Regions from separate parts of the Homo sapiens genome. Here region 2 is linked to region 1. The links come from fine-mapping of genetic effects on plasma protein levels. A gene starts in region 1. The other region holds a variant in brackets. All regions are shown on one strand. Distances are from middle to middle. Region 1 holds the start of LTBR (lymphotoxin beta receptor). Region 2 has its middle 13 kb from the start of LTBR.

The links. PIP is the posterior inclusion probability: the model's chance that the variant is causal. The UK Biobank Pharma Proteomics Project read protein levels with antibody pairs (Olink). The fine-mapping took linkage between variants from a reference panel, not from the people measured, so its PIPs are less certain.
Region 2: its variant is fine-mapped to the plasma level of the LTBR protein (UK Biobank, PIP above 0.99).

What each region holds. Positions count from the first base shown.
Region 1 is chr12:6,376,377-6,384,376 of GRCh38, forward strand. It overlaps LTBR (lymphotoxin beta receptor), which reads left to right and starts at 7,786. Exons shown (of 10, transcript NM_002342.3): 1 at 7,786-8,000. The coding sequence starts at 7,983. It also overlaps a transcript of SCNN1A not described here. RefSeq lists enhancers at 15-619, 6,839-7,704.
Region 2 is chr12:6,392,172-6,402,740 of GRCh38, forward strand. No RefSeq gene overlaps it. Among named protein-coding and RNA genes, the nearest start is that of LTBR, 13 kb to the left of the region's middle. The variant A/AT (reference allele first, on the strand shown) is at 4,900.

The DNA.
Region 1 (8,000 bases):
TGCTGTGGTCACAGAGTTGCAGGAATGTGGGCAACCAGAGGCAGCGCGAGGGCCACGCAGGACACTGTGGACACAGACCCGGAGCCCAGGAAGAGGCAGGGAAAGCAGGCACTGAAGGTGCAGGGAGGATGTGGCCAGCGCTGGAAAGGAAGAGGGTGGGCATGGCACACGCCTAGACAGGCCCTGGGAGGAGGAGAAATTCGTTGATGGGCTATATTTTCTCCAAAATCTCTTTCCAAACTTAATGCAGCAAAAGGATAAGGAGTGGAGTGCCAAGTGGTGAGCAAGGAGAGAGAGGAGGGTCAGAGAATCAGACCCAAAAAGGGCTGGAGGAGACTCGGGAGAGCCACCCACACAACCCAGGCCCTGCACGCGGCAGGGAAGGCTGCCGCTTCCTCACGGGCCCCACAGGAGGCAGCCCAGAGTGCAGGAATGTGGTCACTGGCTTGTCCTGCCTCCCTCCACAAGCCAGCAGACAAAGGCCCAGCCTGAGCATTGATACACACCGGGGGAGGAGATAGGCCTGCAATACAATAAGATAAGGTTTCTATTTGTACACTTTAAAAGATTGTCTTTAAAACGGACTTCTAACAAAAGTGCAGATCTCAGATTTCTCAGAGATAAGACATAAGAGCCAAGGGCTAGGGGAGCCTAGGGGCTCACTGCAGGAGACTCAGGAAGCCTTCCCAGAGAAGGTGTCATCTCTGCTGAATCTTGACAAGCAAGGAGTTTAGCAGGCAAAGAAGAGAAAAGGCAGTACTCCAGGCTCAGGGTCCAACCTGGTCTGTGGCTTCCTCTCTTGCGGCAGTCTCTTGCGACTTCTTAAAGTGAAAGCCGGTGTCAACCAGGATTCCAAACCAGGTTCCCTTGCTTACCTTGATACTGCTCATGATACCTCCCCTTGGAAGGGACAGCTGGATTTTTCTTCATTGTCCTAATGAAGAAACTGACCCTTCCCAAGGATAAATCAGTTTTCTGAGGTTAGAAAACAAAATAGGAGCAGAGCTATAAACAGAATTCAGAATTCTCCTCCTCCTCTGGGGCTATCTACTTAGCGCTTTTGCCATTTACTTCCTGAGACAGACTCATGGGGGATCGGGGCTCAGGTGCACCTGGATGTGAAAGCCGGGAAGGCCTCCCTCACTCCCACACAGAGCCCGTGGATTCGTCTGCTCTCTGGGTGCTGGGTTATCTCCTTGGCTCTGTGAAAAGGTCTCTGCACTGTCCCCACTGCCCCACATATCCCAGAGACCCCTAGAAACTCCAGTCTCCCTTGAGCCAGGTCCTTACATTGGGCATGGTCCTCCCTGCAATAAGGTGCTCAGCACCCTGGCTGTTTGATCTCAAAGGTTCTGAAAAGCACCTCCCTGCCTTTTCTATTTGCCAGCTCATGCCTGAAATCCAACCACTAGCTTAAGGCAGCATGGCAAATAGTTTTCATATCAAGGGCTCTGTGAGAAGAATTGCAATGCCTGGTCTGGGCTGAGCCAAAGGGTGGTGACCCTGCCACGTCCTGCCGGGTATGGGAGTGGCAATGCGAGCCTAGTGCTGCAGCATTCTAGACCTGGAGCGGGCTAGAACAGGCTTGGTGTTGTGAGGAAAATAGAAATCTGAGACCTGGACTTTGGTCAGAAGTCCATTTTAAAGATGATCTTTTAAAGTGTACAAATAATACACAAATATGTTTTTGTCACAGTACAATTTTTCAGCAATACAGAAGTATATAGAGCTTCCCTTAGTCCCCTTCCTTTCCCTCCCCAAAGGGGAGCCACCATAATTTGTATATCTGTCTATATCTTTTTGTGTGCCTTTATAAACTTACATGTATTTTTAAAAAACAAAATATATAGTTCTTTTTTATGACAGAGACCATGCTATAGGTATGTTTCTACAACTTCCATTTTTGCTTTTATTTTCTTATTTATCTTAGAGACAGGATCATGCACTATCCTCTAGGCTGGAGTACAGCAGCATGATCATGGCTCACTGCAGCCTCCAACTCCTAGGCTCAAGCAGTCCTCCTGCCTCAGCCTCCCAAAGTGCTGGGATTACAAGTGTGAGCCACCATACTCAGCCCCTATTTTTGCTTTTAAACTATGTGACTTTGAGAAAGGCACTTGACCTCTATGGGCCCCGGTGATCTTACCTGAGAAAATGAAAGGGCAAGAAGGGGTGGGTAAGGCAACCCAGATGGACAAAGACTTTTTCCAGCTGACCTTGCATCTAGCCCCCTGCTTCATGCATGAGGGGACTGAGGCCCACAGAAGCAAAGTGACTTGGCCACAGTCACCCAGGAGTTAGGGGTGGGGTCAGACTGAAAACCAGGCCACTCCTTTCCAAGCCCAGTTCTCCTTCTCTGACTTTGAGAGAAGTACAGTTTTGTTCTATAAGAAGTCAAGAGCTTTGTAGACTCTGTCTTGGAAGGACCCCCTGCCTTCCCAGGACTACCCCCAGACTCCCCCAGAGCCCCAGCCCTTCCCGCCAACCCAGGGCTGCCTTCCCCTCCCAACACCAGCTATCCTCTAACCCTGTGGTGTGGCCATAAAATATGCACGGCTGCAGGGAGAGAAGTGAAACCAGAGGGGCTGCCATGGGATGAGGGTTATGAGTGCAAAGGGTCTTCCTGCCTCTTGTTCTCCGCGGACAGGAGATGACGGAAGTAATCACTCCACCCTCCTAGGGAGAGCCTATCTCTGCACTTACCACTGTTTACTATTATTTATTATTATTATTTACTATTATCCTGATGTATGTGTGTTTGTACGTATACATCCGTTTGGGGTCCCTGACTTCCCGCAACACAAGGACAGAGACCAGGCGTATTCATCTTGGTGACCTCAGTGTCTAGCGGTCACTGTTTGCTGACCCAGTCTGCAGAAGACAGCAGAACTGGCGTCTTTCCTAGTTTATCTTTGACAGAGCGGGATATGCTACGAAAAAGCATCTGCAAAACTTCAAACATCCTAACTTCCTCTGACAACCCATTTATTTGTGGTCTATTAATTTATCTAAATTTTCTTCACTTTTCCCTGTTCACTTCTATCCTTTCCAGGATAAGAATCAGTTACTTAGTTAAATGCAACTCTTTATTCTTACTACTTGGAGCTAATTAGCCACTTCACACTGGGGGCTGCCCACTGTGGAAGACAACAGTCCTTTCAGCTGCCCTTATGTGGTACAGATTTCTCTTTCATTTAAAATGATGGACCAGAAAAATGCCACTCTTCATCTAGTCCCCTGGCAGTTTACTTAGAAGTTCACTACTAGAAGTTGGCCGGGCATGGTGGCTCACGCCTGTAATCCCAGCACTTTGGGAGGCCGAGGCGGGTGGATCATGAGGTCAGGGGATCGAGGCCATCCTGGCTAACATGGTGAAACCCCGTCTCTACTAAAATTACAAAAAAAATTAGCTGGGCATAAGTGGTGCACGCCTGTAGTCCCAGCTACTCGGGAGGCTGAGGCAGGAGAATGGCATAAAACCGGGGAGGTGGAGCTTGGAGTGAGCCAAGATCGTGCCACTGCACTCCAGCCTGGGAGACAAAGCAAGACTCTGTCTCAAAAAAAAAAAAAACAAAAAAAAAAACAAAAAAAGAAGTTCACTACTAGAAGTTTATCACTTTGATTGAAGACAGGGTTTATCAACCTTGGCACTATTGACATTTTCGGCTGTATCATTCTTTGTGGTGGGACAGGATGATTCTGTCCTATCTACAATCCTGTGCAGGATGTTCAGCAGCATCCCTGGCTTCCATCTATTAGATGCTAGTAGCACCTCCTGAGTCATTGTGACCAAAACATCTCCAAATATTGCCAAATGACTTCTGGGGGGCAAAGTCACCCCCGTTGAAAAGACTGGGTTAAGGCATTGTCACCACTGAAAATGCAAATACTCTGGAAAAGGACAACCCTCATCTGTTATGCACTTCTGGGTGTTTGCCAGACCATTTCCAAGAGCACTAGTCAGCTAAGAGCAGAGTGGAGAAGAAGAGAGAAAGAAAAAGTATTTAGAAGAATCCATTCCTGGCCGGGTACAGTGGCTCGTGCCTGTAATCCCAGTACTTTGGGAGGCTAAGGTGGGCGAAATGACTTGAGACCAGGAATTCAAAACCAGCCTGTGGCCAACATGGCAAAACACCATCTCTACTAAAAATACAAAAATTAGCCGGGCCTGTTGGCGCATGCCTGTAGTCCCAGCTACTCAACTTGGGAGGCTGAGGCCAGGAAAATCACTTGAACCTGGGAGGCGGAGGTTGCAGTGAGCTGAGATTGCACCATTGCACTCCAGCCTGGGCGACAGACTGAGACTCTGTCTCAAAAAAAAAAAAAAAAGAAGAAGAAGAAGAAGAAGAATCCATTTCCATCAGCCCCCTTTCTGGATGCCTAATGGGCCTGTGGAAAGAAGGCTCTCTCAGCAGCTCCTTCGGAAGAAGGCCTGGGAGAAGAGTCCCACCCTCACACACCTTCTAGGCGTCCTGGGGTGCTCGGTCTGGGTCTGGTGTTGCCCAGTGGAAATCAGTCTCAGGAGGCTCTGGTGAAAAACACAAAAGGACAGGAGTAAAGACAATGCCCTGCCCGCGGTGAACCTGTGGATTTCTCACCCCTGGAGTCTCCCTTTATCCTCCTGGGGATGGCTGGGCATTATAGTAGCCATTTATTGGTAAGATTTGTCTTTCGTGATCCAGCTGGGAAACAAGAAACACTCTAAGTCTTTCAAACAGAAGAAGTTTAACACAGAGAACTAACTGGTACATGGGTGATGGAGGAGCTGAGAAGACAATGGGAGGCAGCTCAGAAAACAGCAGAGCGGGAAGCAGCTACCATCTCTAGGCCTGGAAAGATGGCAGGGTGATGTAGCATCAAAGACCAAGAAGCCTCCAGAGCCATTTGGCAGGAACTAAATAGTGTGGACTACTGGTAGGAGATGGGATTATGGAAGTGGGGAAGGAAGGAAGACAACCAACTGCAGGTGAAGCCAGAAAGCAGAGAGGAGAGAAATAGCCTGGCTGCTTCACTCCTCCCATCCCACCTCCATCCCACAGACCTGCAAGCAAACCAGTAGCTGACTGACACAATAAAGAGGCACACAGAGATAAAGTGATGGGGCCAGGATCAAAACCCAGATCTCAGGGCTCGTTCCTTAGGGTGTAGAGAGTCCATGAGGGCTGAAGCGCCAGCTTACGGCTGGCAGCAGAAAGAAACATACAGTCCAGCCAGCTGGGGTTAAAAGGGGTCTGGACATAGTGGTTACCTGTGAAGCAGGAAGCTTTGACTGGGAAGGGCATGTAGCAAACATTTGTAGTGCAAGGAACATTCTGGGGCCGGGTGCCGTGGCTCACGCCTGTAATCCCAGCACTTTGGGAGGCCAAGGCGGGTGGATCACAACATCAGGAGTTCAAGACCAGCCTGGTCAACATGGCGAAACCCCATCTCTACTAAAAATACAAAAATCAGCCAGGCATGGTGGCAGGCGCCCGTAATCCCAGCTACTCGGGAGGTTGAGGCAGAGAATTGTTTGAACCTGGGAGGCAGAGGTTGTAGTGAGCCGAGATTGCACCACTGCACTCCAGCCTGGGCGACAAAGCGAGACTCTGTATGGAAAGGAAAAGAGAAAAGAAGAGAAGAGAAGAGGTGTTCTGGACCAGTTGGGGGATATGCAAGAATACACAAAAGTGAAGACTCTCTGAGCTGTATCTGTAAGATCAGTGTACCTTACGGTTTCATTGTATTATATGTTACACCTCTATTAAAAGAAAGGGTCTCAGCAGCATAAGACAGGGTGGGGAAAAAAAGAAAAATAGAATAGAGAAAGAGTCCCTGTCTTTTAGGGTAAAATCCTGAAATATTTTCAAATGAAATGATATGATGTCTGGGATTTACTTCAAAATAATAATGAGGGATTTGAAGAGTGTGTGCGTTGGTGGGGGAGGGGGTATACAGAATAAATGAAACTGACAGTGAGTTGAAGCTGGGTAAGGAGTATATGGGAGACTCCCAATATTACTTTTTCTCTTTTGGTATATTATCTTGCATGTGGAATTTCCACAGTAAAAAGTAAAAAGAAGAGAGAGAAAAAAGGACCTAGGGTCGCTACACACACATTCCTTTACGCGTTTAAGAGCTCAGCAGGGACTCTCATCCCAGCCCCCAGCGCTAGGGCCCTGGAAGGCTCAGCAGCCCCGCGCAGTGCATGCTGTTCTGATACTTCTGCCCTTTCCAGCCATCTTTGGCCCATCTGTACGGTGAGCTGCCTGCACCAGGTGAGGGGAGAGAGCCTCACAGAGTGAAATGCCTACAGCCTAGGCAGGTCCTTTCCCCCTTTTGTGACCTCTCCTCCCCATGCACACTTCCCATCACCTGCACCTGTCCAGACATCAGACCTGAAGTTAGACAGACCAGTGTAAGGACGAGTGCTGAACAGAGTCCTTCAGGGAGGGGGATAGTGCCCAAGTGACCTATCTCAAGAGAGGTTAGCCCCTCATCCCAAGGGAGACATCCCTGAGCCACAAGGAGTTGGCAGGACTGCTGGAATGAGTTGGGACCTAGACATCAGGAGACCCAGATTGTAGCTGGCTCTGCGGTGGACTGGCTCTGTGATGTGGCCATCACTCATTTATTCCATAAATACCTATTGGGCACATGGTATGTGCCAGACTCTGCTAAGCATGGGGAACACAGACTTGAAGATTCAGCCTGGGCCATGGTGGCACTCACAGCCTGGTGGGAAGCAAACAAGACAGCCAGGTACAGAGGGCAGTCTTCACGGGGACTGTGCAACCTAGGGCAGAGGTTGCCTTCCAGAGCCTCAGTGAAGCCTCAAGGACAGGTGGGAGTTAGGAAGACGGAAACTTGGGGACCAGAGAACCACGTGTAAAAGGGGGCAGCTGCAAGTAACTCCACGGGTGGGTGGGGTGTTGGGTTGAGGGAGATGGGAGGATGAAACAGGGCAGGAACGAGACCAGGCCACCCTGGAATCCCGGTTCCCTTATGTATCACCCTTAGCCTCCCTCTCCATGCTTAAGGTGAGGGGGCTGGACTGCGTGGGCTCTCAGCTTTCTCCAGTTCTAAGGGGTTTGAAGGTTCATGGGCAAAGAAGCCAGAGCAGAGGGACTGAGTGCCCAGGTCCAGCCTGCTGGCCCCAGGACTCCCCTCCGCATATCCTCCCCCTCTCTTTGGGAGGGAGGTTCCCTGAGGACAGGGAGCAGGGCAAGCTGCACAGCTCTCAAGGGTCTCCTAGGTGACCTGTGCCCACTCCTGTGCGGATTGGGCTGGGTTGGTAGCGTGGGGGGCTGGCTGATTTGCTAGTCCCTTGTAATTTGTCTGAAAAACTCCCACAGTAGGGCAGGACAACGGGGGAGGAACCCGGGCATCTGCCAGCCGGTTCTCCTCGGTCTCAGAGCTGCTTCTGCGGCCTTGCAGTCCCCGCGCCCTGCCCTCTCCATGACTGCCCGTCCTGGGCCCCTCGCTTTCCAGATCCCGCACCCAGCTGTCCCTTGCGCTCTCTGGAACTCCCTCTGCTCTCCCTGCGAGGCTTGTCCAAGGGCTGACCCCGGGCCCGCCGCCCTTCCCTCGGCTGGGCCAGGGCTGTCCGCAGTCCGCTCTCCCGATCGGGCTTCCGAAGAAGGGAGGAGGCCGGTTCCGGCCCCGCGGCCCTCACGTGCTTTCCCGGCCGCCCCTCCCGCCCCGCATCGAGGCAGACAAGCCTGTTCCTCTTCCCTGGGCTGCGATTGCGACAGGCCGGCCTGGCTCCCAGCGCTCCCTGTCCCCGCCCCGCGGCCAGCTCGCTCCACTCCCACTTCCTGAGCTCCGCCATGGGAGCCCTGGAGGCCCGGCCTGGCCGCTCCCGGCCCTGGGGTGCACATCGGCCCTGAGTCCCGTCCCAGGCTCTGGGCTCGGGCAGCCGCCGCCACCGCTGCCCAGGACGTCGGGCCTCCTGCCTTCCTCCCAGGCCCCCACGTTGCTGGCCGCCTGGCCGAGTGGCCGCCATGCTCCTGCCTTGGGCC
Region 2 (10,569 bases), 17 kb after region 1:
ATTATGGCTCATGGCAACCTTGAACTCCTGGCTCAAGGGATCCGCCCACCTCAGCCTCCCAAGTAGCTGGGGCTATAGGTGTGTGCCACGACGCCCAGCTAATTTTTTGTATTTTTAGTAGAGATCAGGTCTCCCTGTGTTGCCCAGGCTGGTCTCGAACTCCTGGGCTCAAGCAATCCTCCTGCCTTGGCCTCTGAACATGCAGTGATTACAGGCGTGAGAGCCACCGTGCCTGACCTGAGGTGTGCACTTTAGACATAAAATGAGAGAGGCCAAGTTCACATTTTGTTGGTGAACAGAAATCTAGGCTGGCCTCCTTTTGGTTCAGAAAGAGTATTTATGATTTTTACTTTTTTGGTTTCTTTTTGTCTTCTTTTATTTTTACCCCCAAAAAGGACTTTAAATCTTCTCAAGCCCTCTTATTAGTAAATGTTTGCCCCTCCCTGCCCCTGAATTCTCTCCTGTGCTCGGTCGAGAGGATCTTAGCTTGCAGGATTGTTAGGGAGCTGCTGCCAGCCGGCTGCTCCTTCCATAAAAGGCCACTCTCATGGGTCTGATATGAGGAACTCTGTCGCTGGAGCTCATCAGGGTGGGGCGGCTGCAAAACACACACCTCAGAAGGCGTCTGATCCAATGGAGTGGATGGGTCATTTAAGGTTGACTGTGAAAATATCACATCCAACTTCCTTTTTTGAAAAGTAAATAATGGTGAGCTGTATCTTTAAATAAAGTTAAATCCTCCTGCCCCTGCAATATGCTGGGGCCAGACCTCATGAATTCTTAATAATTGTTCTAATGTGTTTAGATAAAAAACAAATTTTATACATTTTTTTCAACAAAATAAAAGGAGGAAAATATTTTGAAAGAAATGATGCTGAAGCACAGCCCTTTGTGACACCATTCAAATTTATAATTATACCTGCCTGTATTTTTTTAGAGACAGGGTCTTACTGTGTCGCCCTGGCTTGAGTGCAGTGGTATAATCGTGGCTCATATAGCCTCAGCTCCTAGACTCAAATGATCTTCCTACCTCAGCCTCCCACGTAGCTAGAGCTACAGATGCGTGCCACCACACCTGGCTAATTTTTTTTTAATTTCTTTTTTAAGAAGTGGGGTCTTGCTATGTTGTCCAGGCTGGTCTCAAACTCCTGGGATCAAGTGATCCTCCCACCTCAGCCTCCCAAAGAGCTGAGATTGCAGGCATGAGCCACTGCACCTGGGCTGCCTAAATTAATTTTCTAGGGCCGCCATAACAAAGTACTGCAGACTCGATAGCTTAAGCTGCAGAGATTTATCTTCTCACAGCTCTGGAGGCTGGAAGTCAGAGGTCAACGTGTTGGCAAGGTTGGTGTCCTCTGAGGCCTCTGTCCTTGGCCTGCTAATGGTGGCCTTCCTGCCACCTATGTCTTCACATGGTCTTGCCTTTGTGCATGAGTGTGTCCTAATCTTCTCTTAGTGGATTAGGGCCCATCCTGATGACCTCATTTTAACTTAGTCACCTCTTTAAAGCCCCTGTCTCCAAATAAGGCCCCATTCTGAGGTCCTGGGAGTTAGGGCTTCAGCACGTGGATTTTGGAGGGAGACACAGTTCCACCCACAGCATTACCCATGTCTATTTTGCCAGTGTGGAGTCAGTACAGGCTCCAGGACACATCCACAGAGCACAGGCCACGTAGAGGGGAGCTCCTGTCTACAAGGAAAAGCTGGCAGAAAACCAACAAAGACAGCCTCTTGATGGTGGTCTTCAAAAGATGCAACAGGATGCAATGGCAGTTGACAATGGGGTAACTGTTGGTTGTGAGAACCCTAATCCTCTACCACAGGGAGGAGAAAGCTAACACCAAGTCCAACCCACATCAACACGGGGGTGGGACACCCGTTAGGGGGCCAAGGCTGTAGTCCAGAAGAAAGGTGGATGGAACTGGGGACAGAGCAGTAGCACAGGGAGATGGGGGAGGATGGGGTAATTCAGAATTTCCCTTTTTGAGAGTGGCATCAACACAATGTCAAAGTAGGAGTTCTCCGGCTTCTCTCCTCCCCAACAGAATTTCAACTAGCAACAATCCTGTGGCAAGTTTACCACCCTGAATATCCCAGAACTTGGAGTGAAGCTTTGCATCCCCTGGGATGGCAGAGCCAAGAAAAACCATGAGGACGGTAAGGGGATGGCTGCTTTCTGACCACGCCACTCCTCCCCAAGCCCGCACAGTGCCACACGCAGAGGAGTCCCTGGATGCTCGGTTTCTCCAGTGGACACAGTGGATGGGAGGTGGGCGTTCGGCTTCCCCACCAGTCTGAGACTTCACAGGAGACTCACTCTAGTCTTTTCCCGCAGGAAGCACTGTGAGTACCGGCAGGGTCAGCCCAACAAGGGTCAGTAAGAACTTCCCTTTTCAAAAGATAAAGCGGTTCACATAGACAGCTGTGGTGGACTCTTTCTGCTGCCTGTCCAACAGACTTCTGCACATTTCCTAAGGACAGAACCGCATTTTTGTACTAGAGCAGAGATTCCGTGACATCAGGAGAAGAGGCCCTTCCCCCAATCCCAGGAGCCAATAAACTCATTCTTCTTTGCAATTGTACAATGACATGCACAGGGAAGTCTTCCTTTCCAGGGTATAAAGCACCATTAGGAGAAAGTTTTTGGTTTGCCTTGGCCCTTATTTTTTGTTTTGGGGATTTTGCGTGTGACAACATCACTCCTGAGCTGTGGCAGCCATCTTACCATCATGAGGAAACCGCCACGGGGATAAAAAGCCAGTCCTCTGAGGACCTGGAAGAAAGGACAGAACCTGGCTCCCAAGGCATCACTGAGACCCAAATCAACAGTAAGTAAGCACAGCACCTACTCCTGGGCTTCTTTTTATGAGAGAAAAAAAAAGTTCCCATTTGTGTAAATCATAGTGTTTGGTGTTCCTTTTCTTTTTTAGTTTTAATTGTATTTATTTCCTCTCTTTCGGATGGTTGATTTATTCACATGGGTCAAAATTCAAAAAGTATCAAAGAGTAAACAGTGAAATGTCTCTCTTTCACTCCTATCCCCCAACCACCAAGGTCCCTGCTCTGGAAGCAACCAATGTTACTGTTTCTGATGCTTTTCCAGAGGTAATTTATGCATATTCAAACAAATATATATAAATAGATTCCTTTGCTTTTTTATTTCTACAGATGGTACTACAGTAGTCCCCCCTTGTTTGTTATTTTTTTTTCTTGTTTGTGATTTTGCTTTCCATGGTTTCAGTTATCTGCTGTCAACTGTGGTCCAAAAATATTAAATGGAAAATTCCGGAAAGAAACAATTCATCTGTTTTAAATTGTGCACTGTTCTGAACAGCATGATGAAACCTCAAGCTGTCCTACTGAGACAGAGTAGGGATGGGACTCGGGCCCCACTCGTGCCCTACCAAGAACCTCTATTGTAAGCTGGGGTGGGGGTGTGTGGCCAGTGAGGACCCCAACCAGACTGTCCAGACCTTGCACCATGAATCTTGCTCAAGGTACTATACCCACTCATCGCAGACCCTTAGAGAGACTAAGATGAACAACGTCCCACCATAAATCTTACTCCAGGTGCCAAACCCACTAGTTGTAGAAATTAAAATAAGCAGCTCCCACCTTGAATCTTACTCAAAGGAGTTAACCCTATCTCCCGTATGTATACCACAGGACCAGAAGAATGAGCGCTCCTTTGCCTTATCTTCATTATAATACTAAAAATCACACCGGGGTGGAGACTTAACATGCTAATGAGACACACGATGCATAAAGAAGCATGTTATCAAACTGAACAGGTGCCAAAATTTCCTCATCTCTACCTGCTCAAACTCACTCCCTTCCCACTTTAGTTCCTTTAATTCTCCTTTAGTTCCTTTAGTTCTCTTGAGTCTCTTCCAGGAGCCAGCCAGAGAATTCTCTCTCTCGTGCTGCCTCCCTTATGCCCTGCATAAGCTCTAATAAAGCCTTGTCTGGGAAAACTCTTTTGGCCTCATGTTAACTTCTATTGCATTAACAACCCCCAAGGCCCTGTGGTTGGTAACACTACTCCTGTCCCTTCAAGACATGAATTCTCCCTTTGTCCAGCATCTCCTCCCTGCAGACGCTCCCTACCCCTTAGTCACTTACAAGCCTTCCCAGTGATCAGACCAACTGTTGAGATATTGCATGCTTGTGTTCAAGTCACCCTTATTTTACTTCATAATGGCCTCAAAGTGCAAGAGTGGTGATACTGGTCATTCAGATATGCCAAAGAGAAGCCATAATATGCTTCCTTTGATGACTTTGCTAAGATCTGCATAACAATGCACCTTCTATTCATGAAGTTGTGAAGCAGAAAAAAAGAAATTCAAACTAGTTTTGCTGTCACACCTTAAACTGCAAAAGTCATGGTGCATGATAAGTGCTTAGTTAAGTTGGAAAAGGCATCAAATTTCTGGGTGGAAGACATGAACAGAAACGTGTTTTGACTGACAGCAATCGGGTTCAGTGCTATCCACGGTTTCAGGCATCCACTGGGGGCCTTGGAATGTATCCCCCTTGGAGGAGGGTGGACTACTGTACACGATGTTCTGTAAGTTCTTCCCCTTGCCTTTTTCATTTATTAAAAGAGCTTGGCCATAATACCATATTAGTACCAAAAAAAGTTCTCATTCATTTTTCTATCTGTGTGGTATTCTATCACCTGGCTGTACCATTTAACTGGATCCCTTTTGAGAATTTTTAATTCATCTCCAACCTTTACTATTACAGACAACACTACAGTAATAACCTATGTCATTTTGCACATGTGGAAGTACTGCTACAAAAAAAATTGCTGGAAATAAAATTTCCTGGTTAAAAGGTACATACATTTCGTTTTGATAAATGTTGCTAATTTGTCTTCCATAGAGATGGAATATCGGA[A/AT]TTTTTTTTTTTTTGAGATGGAGTCTCACTCTGTCACCCAGGCTGGAGTGCAGTGGCGCAATCTGGGCTCACTGCAAGCTCCGCCTCCCGGGTTCACGCCATTCTCCTGCCTCAGTCTCCTGAGTAGCTGGGACTACAGGCGCCTGCCACCACACCCGGCTAATTTTTTTGTATTTTTAGTAGAGATAGGGTTTCACCGTGTTAGCCAGGATGGTGTTGATCTCCTGACCTTGTGATCCGCCCGTCTCGGCCTCCCAAAGTGCTGGGATTACAGGCATGAGCCACCGTGCCCGGCCGAACATCGGAAATTTTTAAGTGTCCATTTCCTTACATAAACACCAACTTTGATGTGTTATCAAATATTTTGATCTTTGCCAAACTGAAAGATAGAAAAAAAAAAGTTATCTCAGTGTAATTTTTATTTGGATTTCTTATTGCGAGTGAAGTTTTTCACTTCACTGTGAATGAGTATTTCATTTCATATGAGTGAACATTTCATATGTTAAAGAGCCAGTTGTAATTTATTTTCTACTGACTGTTCATATCTCTATTTTTCTTTTTTTTTTTTTTTTTGACAGGGTCTTGCTCTGTCACCCAGGCTGGAGTGCAGTGGCCCAATCACAACTCTCTGCAGCCTCCACCTCCCAGGCTCAAGTGATTCTCCCACCTCAGCCTCTCTCCAGTAGCTGGGACTACAGACACACACCACCACGCCAGGTTACTTTTTAAATTTTTTGTAGAGATGAGGTTTCACCATGTTGCCCAGGCTGGTCTCAAACTCCTGAGCTCCTTCTGCCTCAGTCTTCAAAGTGCTGGGATTACAGGTGTGAGCCATCACACTTGGCCTCCTATATTTCTATTAGTTTTCAAATGTTATCTTTTTATCTCCAGTCATCTATTGAACAATAATTTTTTCTTCACTAATTTAAAACTACTGTTATGATAAGCCAAGTTTTTGTGCAAGTTTGAATTTACTTCTGGATTTTCAATTCTCTCTCATTGATCCGTCTTTTCAATTTGCCAACATTACAGTCTTTCAATTGTTTTAGCTTTATATTTTAATATCTATTAGGGCCAGTAGCTCCTTTTATTCTCTGTTTTTAAGAATTTTTCTAACTATATTTTCTTCCTTTTCCACATGAATTTTAGGACCTGTTTATTTAGTTCACTCCCCCTCCAAAAGAAAGGCTCCTTTGAGGATGTGTTTTGAGATTGTATTGAATTTACAAATCAATTAGTGTGTTGGGTTTGTTTGTTTGTTTTTAATTTGAGACAGAGTTTCGCTCTGTCACCCAGGCTGGAGTGCAGTGGTGCGATCTCGGCTCACTGCAACCTCCGCCTCCCGGGTTCAAGCGATTCTCCTGCCTCAGCCTCCTGAGTAGCTGGGATTACAGGTGCATGCTACCATGCCCGACTAATTTTTGTATTTTTAGTAGAGATGGGGTTTCACCATATTGGCCAAGCTGGTCTCGAACTCCTGACCTCAAGTGATCCACCTGCCTCAGCCTTCCAAAGTGCTGGGATTACAGGCATGAGCTACCGTGCCGGGCCGGGTCTTCTTTTCAAGAACATGATATACCCTTCTATTTGTTGATACCCTCCTCTTTGTGTCCTCAGTAGCATTTTAATGTTTCCTTAATATGGGCATTTCTCATTATAGTCATTCCTTGGTGTTTTACCTTTATAAGTGCTATAAAAATGGGATTTTTTAGTTTTGTTTTCTTTCTTTTTCCCCAGCCACCTACTGAATTCCCTCATGATCTATAATAGTTTTTTTGTTTTGTTTTGTTTTTGTTTCTTTTCTGAGACAGAGTCTCACTCTGTCACCCAGGCTGGAGTGCAGTGGTGTGATCTCAGCTCACTGCAAGCTCCGCCTCCCGGGTTCACGCCATTCTCCTGCCTCACCCTCCCTAGTAGCTGAGACTACAGGCGCCCGCCACCACGCCCGCCTAATTTTTTGTATTTTTAGTACAGACGGGGTTTCACCGTGTTAGCCAGGATAGTCTCGATCTCCTGACCTTATGATCTGCCCACCTCGACCTCCCAAAGTGCTGGGATTACAGGCGTGAGCCACCGCGCCTGGCCTATAACAGTTTTTCAATTAATTTTCTTAGGTTATCACCTACAAATAATGCTAATTTTGTAATAATTTTTCTAGAAACAAGTTATTGCCATGTTGCCCAGGCTGGTACCGAACTCCTAGGCTCAAGCAATCTGCCCACCTTGGCCTCCCAAAGTGCTGGGATTACAGGTGTGAGCCACCACACCTGGCCTATAACAGTTTTTCAATTAATTTTCTTAGGTTATCACCTACAAATAATGCTAATTTCATAGTAATTTTTCTAGAAACAAGTTATTGCCATGTTGCCCAGGCTGGTACCGAACTCCTAGGCTCAAGCAATCTGCCCACCTTGGCCTCCCAAAGTGCTGGGATTACAGGTGTGAGCCACCGCACCTGGCCTATAACAGTTTTTCAATTAATTTTCTTAGGTTATCACCTACAAATAATGCTAATTTCATAATAATTTTTCTAGAAACAAGTTATTGCCATGTTGCCCAGGCTGGTATTGAACTCCTAGGCTCAAGCAATCTGCCCACCTTGGCCTCCCAAAGTGCTGGGATTACAGGCGTGAGCCACCGCGCCTGGCCCTAATATTTTTAAATCTCATCTAAATGCATCTCATAGTACCTCCAGAACAATAGTAAATAGTAATGGACAGCTCTGTCTCAATCCTGATTTTAAGGGCAATACTTCCAGTATTTTCTCATTAAGCAGCAGTTGAAATACGTATATTTATTTTATTATGCTAAGGAAGTATCCATATCTTATTATTTCATAATAATCCAATGGATAATGAATAAATAATAGAAACGGAAAGACCAGATCAAAGGCTACTGCAATAGGGAGATGGAGAAAGGTGGAAGGTTGGAGATATGCCTTAGAGATAGAGTCAACAGGATTTATTGGTGGGCGTGGGTCCCAGCTCATATTTTATGGCCTTGGGTATTAGTTTGTTTAATCTGAGCCTCACATTCAAATTAACATTTGGTAAACATTAAGTGAGAATTTACTATGTACTAGTCATCTTAAGATACAACAGCCAACGAGACAGACCTGATACATAAACTTCTGGAGCTTGTAAAATAATCACAATTATTGCTTTTGTAGACAAGTGCTACAAAAGAGAAGCACAACATATAACCAGTGACCGATTCTAGGTCTGGAGATGAGGAAATTCCTCCCTGAGGAAATTTAAGATACAACCTGAAGAATAAATAAGGGCTAGCCAAATTGAAGGGGTGTTGGAGAGGAGAGCTCTGCTGGTGGGTTAAATGGTACGTGCAAAGGCCCTGTGATAGGAAGAATAGTTTGGCTGGAACTTGGGAATAGAGAGATGAAGCTAGAGAAGTAGGCGGGTAACACGTCATTCAGACTTACAGACTACAGCAATTTTGAACTTTACCCTAAGAGCAATAGGAAACCAGTAAAATTTTTTTCCAGTGTAGTAAAGTATATATATATAAATATATATGTTATATGTGTGTGTGTGTGTATATATACACACATACATATAAAATATGTGTATATAGTGTATATATACACACATATATATAAAATATGTGTGTGTGTGTGTGTGTGTGTGTGTGTATATATATTTTTTTTTTCACTCTGTTGCCCAGGCTGAAGTGCAGTGGCATAATCTCGGCTCACTGCAACCTCTGCCTCCCAGGTTCAAGAGATTCTCCTGTCTCAGCTTCCCTAGTAGCTGGGACTACAGGCGTGCACCACCACACCTGGCTAATTTTTGTATTATTAGTAGTGATGGGGTTTCACCATGTTGGCCAGGCTGGTCTCGAACTCCTGACCTCAAGTGATCCACCTGCCTTGGCCTCCCAAAGTACTTGGATTACAGTCATGAGCCACTTCACCCGGCCTGTAAAGTATATAAAGTATATTAATCTTAAGTGTATAGCCTGAAGAAGTGTTACATAGGTATATACCCATGTTACCATCACAGAAGATATGCAACATTTTACTTCCTTAGAAGATAACTTCATGCCACTTTCCACTCAGTCATGCTTACTGCTTGAGTTCCAGTTTATATTCTGGCAGACATATGACATCCCAGAGATATCCACTTTCCTATTTTGACTTATATCCCCATCAGTTAGTATTTGTTTGTTTGTTTGTTTTTAAGATGGAGTCTCCCTCTTGTCGCTCAGGCTGGAGTGCAGCGGTGCTATCCTGGCTCACTGCAACCTCTGCCTCCCAGGTTCAAGCGATTCTCCTGCCTCAGCCTCCCGAGTAGCTGGGATTACAGGCGCCCACTCACCTGGCTAATTTTTGTATTTTTAGTAGCGACGGGGTTTCGCCATGTTGGCCAAGCTGGCCTTGAACTCCTGGCCTCAAGCCATCTGCCCATTTCGGCCTCCCGAAGTGCTGGGATTACAGACATGAACCATCACGCCTGGCTCATTTGGGTTTTTTTTCTTAATGAGTTTTTAGTTTGGAAAAATTTTAGAATTACAGAAAAGTTGCAAAGATAGTACAGAGGGTTTTGGTATACCTTTCACCCAGCTGCCCTTAATGTTAATATCTCACATAGCCATGATACATTTGTCAAAACTAATTAAGAAATTAACATATCAACTAAACTACAGATTTTATTTAGATTTCACCAGTTTTTTTCCTTAAATCCTTTTTCTGTTCCAGAATCCAATCCAGGATACCACATTGCACTTAGTGATTATGATCCCTTAATATTTAGTCTTCTCTGATCTGTGACAGTTTCTGTCTTTCCTTATGCTGAGACAGGCAGATCGCTTAAGTCCACAAGCTCGAGACTAGCCTAGGCAACATGGCTAAACCCTGTCTCACAAAAAAAAATACAAAAATTAGCCTGGTGTGCTGATGTGTGCTTCTAGTCCCACCTACTTGAGGGGCTGAGGTGAAAGGATTTCTAGAGCCCGGGAGGTCGAGGCTGCAGTGAGATGTGATCCCACCCTGCACTCCAGCCTGGGAGACAGAGCGAGACTGTCTCACAAAGTGAAAAAAAAAAAGAAAAGAAAAAGGAAAAAGCAACTGCCAACCTGTCTCCAAAGTGACTATATCATTTTGCATTCCCAAAAGCAATGAATGAGAGTTCCTGTTGCACATCTTCACCCGCATTTGGTGATGGTGGCAGTGTTTTAGAAATTCTAGTAAGACCAGCATTTGGTGATGGTGGCAGTGTTTTAGAAATTCTAGTAAGACCAGCATTTGGTGGTTGGTGGCAGTTTTAGAAATTCTAGTAAGACCAGCATTTGGTGGTTGGTGGCAGTGTTTTAGAAATTCTAGTAGGACCAGCATTTGGTGATGGTGGCAGTGTTTTTTTTTATTTTTTATTTTTATTTATTTTATTTATTTATTTTTTTGAGACGGAGTCTTGCTCTGTCACCCAGGCTGGAGTGCAGTGGCGCGATCTCGGCTCACTGCAAGCTCCGCCTCCCGGGTTCACGCCATTCTCCTGCCTCAGCCTCCTGAGTAGCTGGGACTATAGGCGCCCATCACCACACCCAGCTAATTTTTTTTATTTTTAATAGAGGTGGGGTTTAACCATGTTAGCCAGGATGGTCTCAATCTCCTGACCTCGTGATGATGGTGGCAGTGTTTTAGAAATTCTGGTAAGA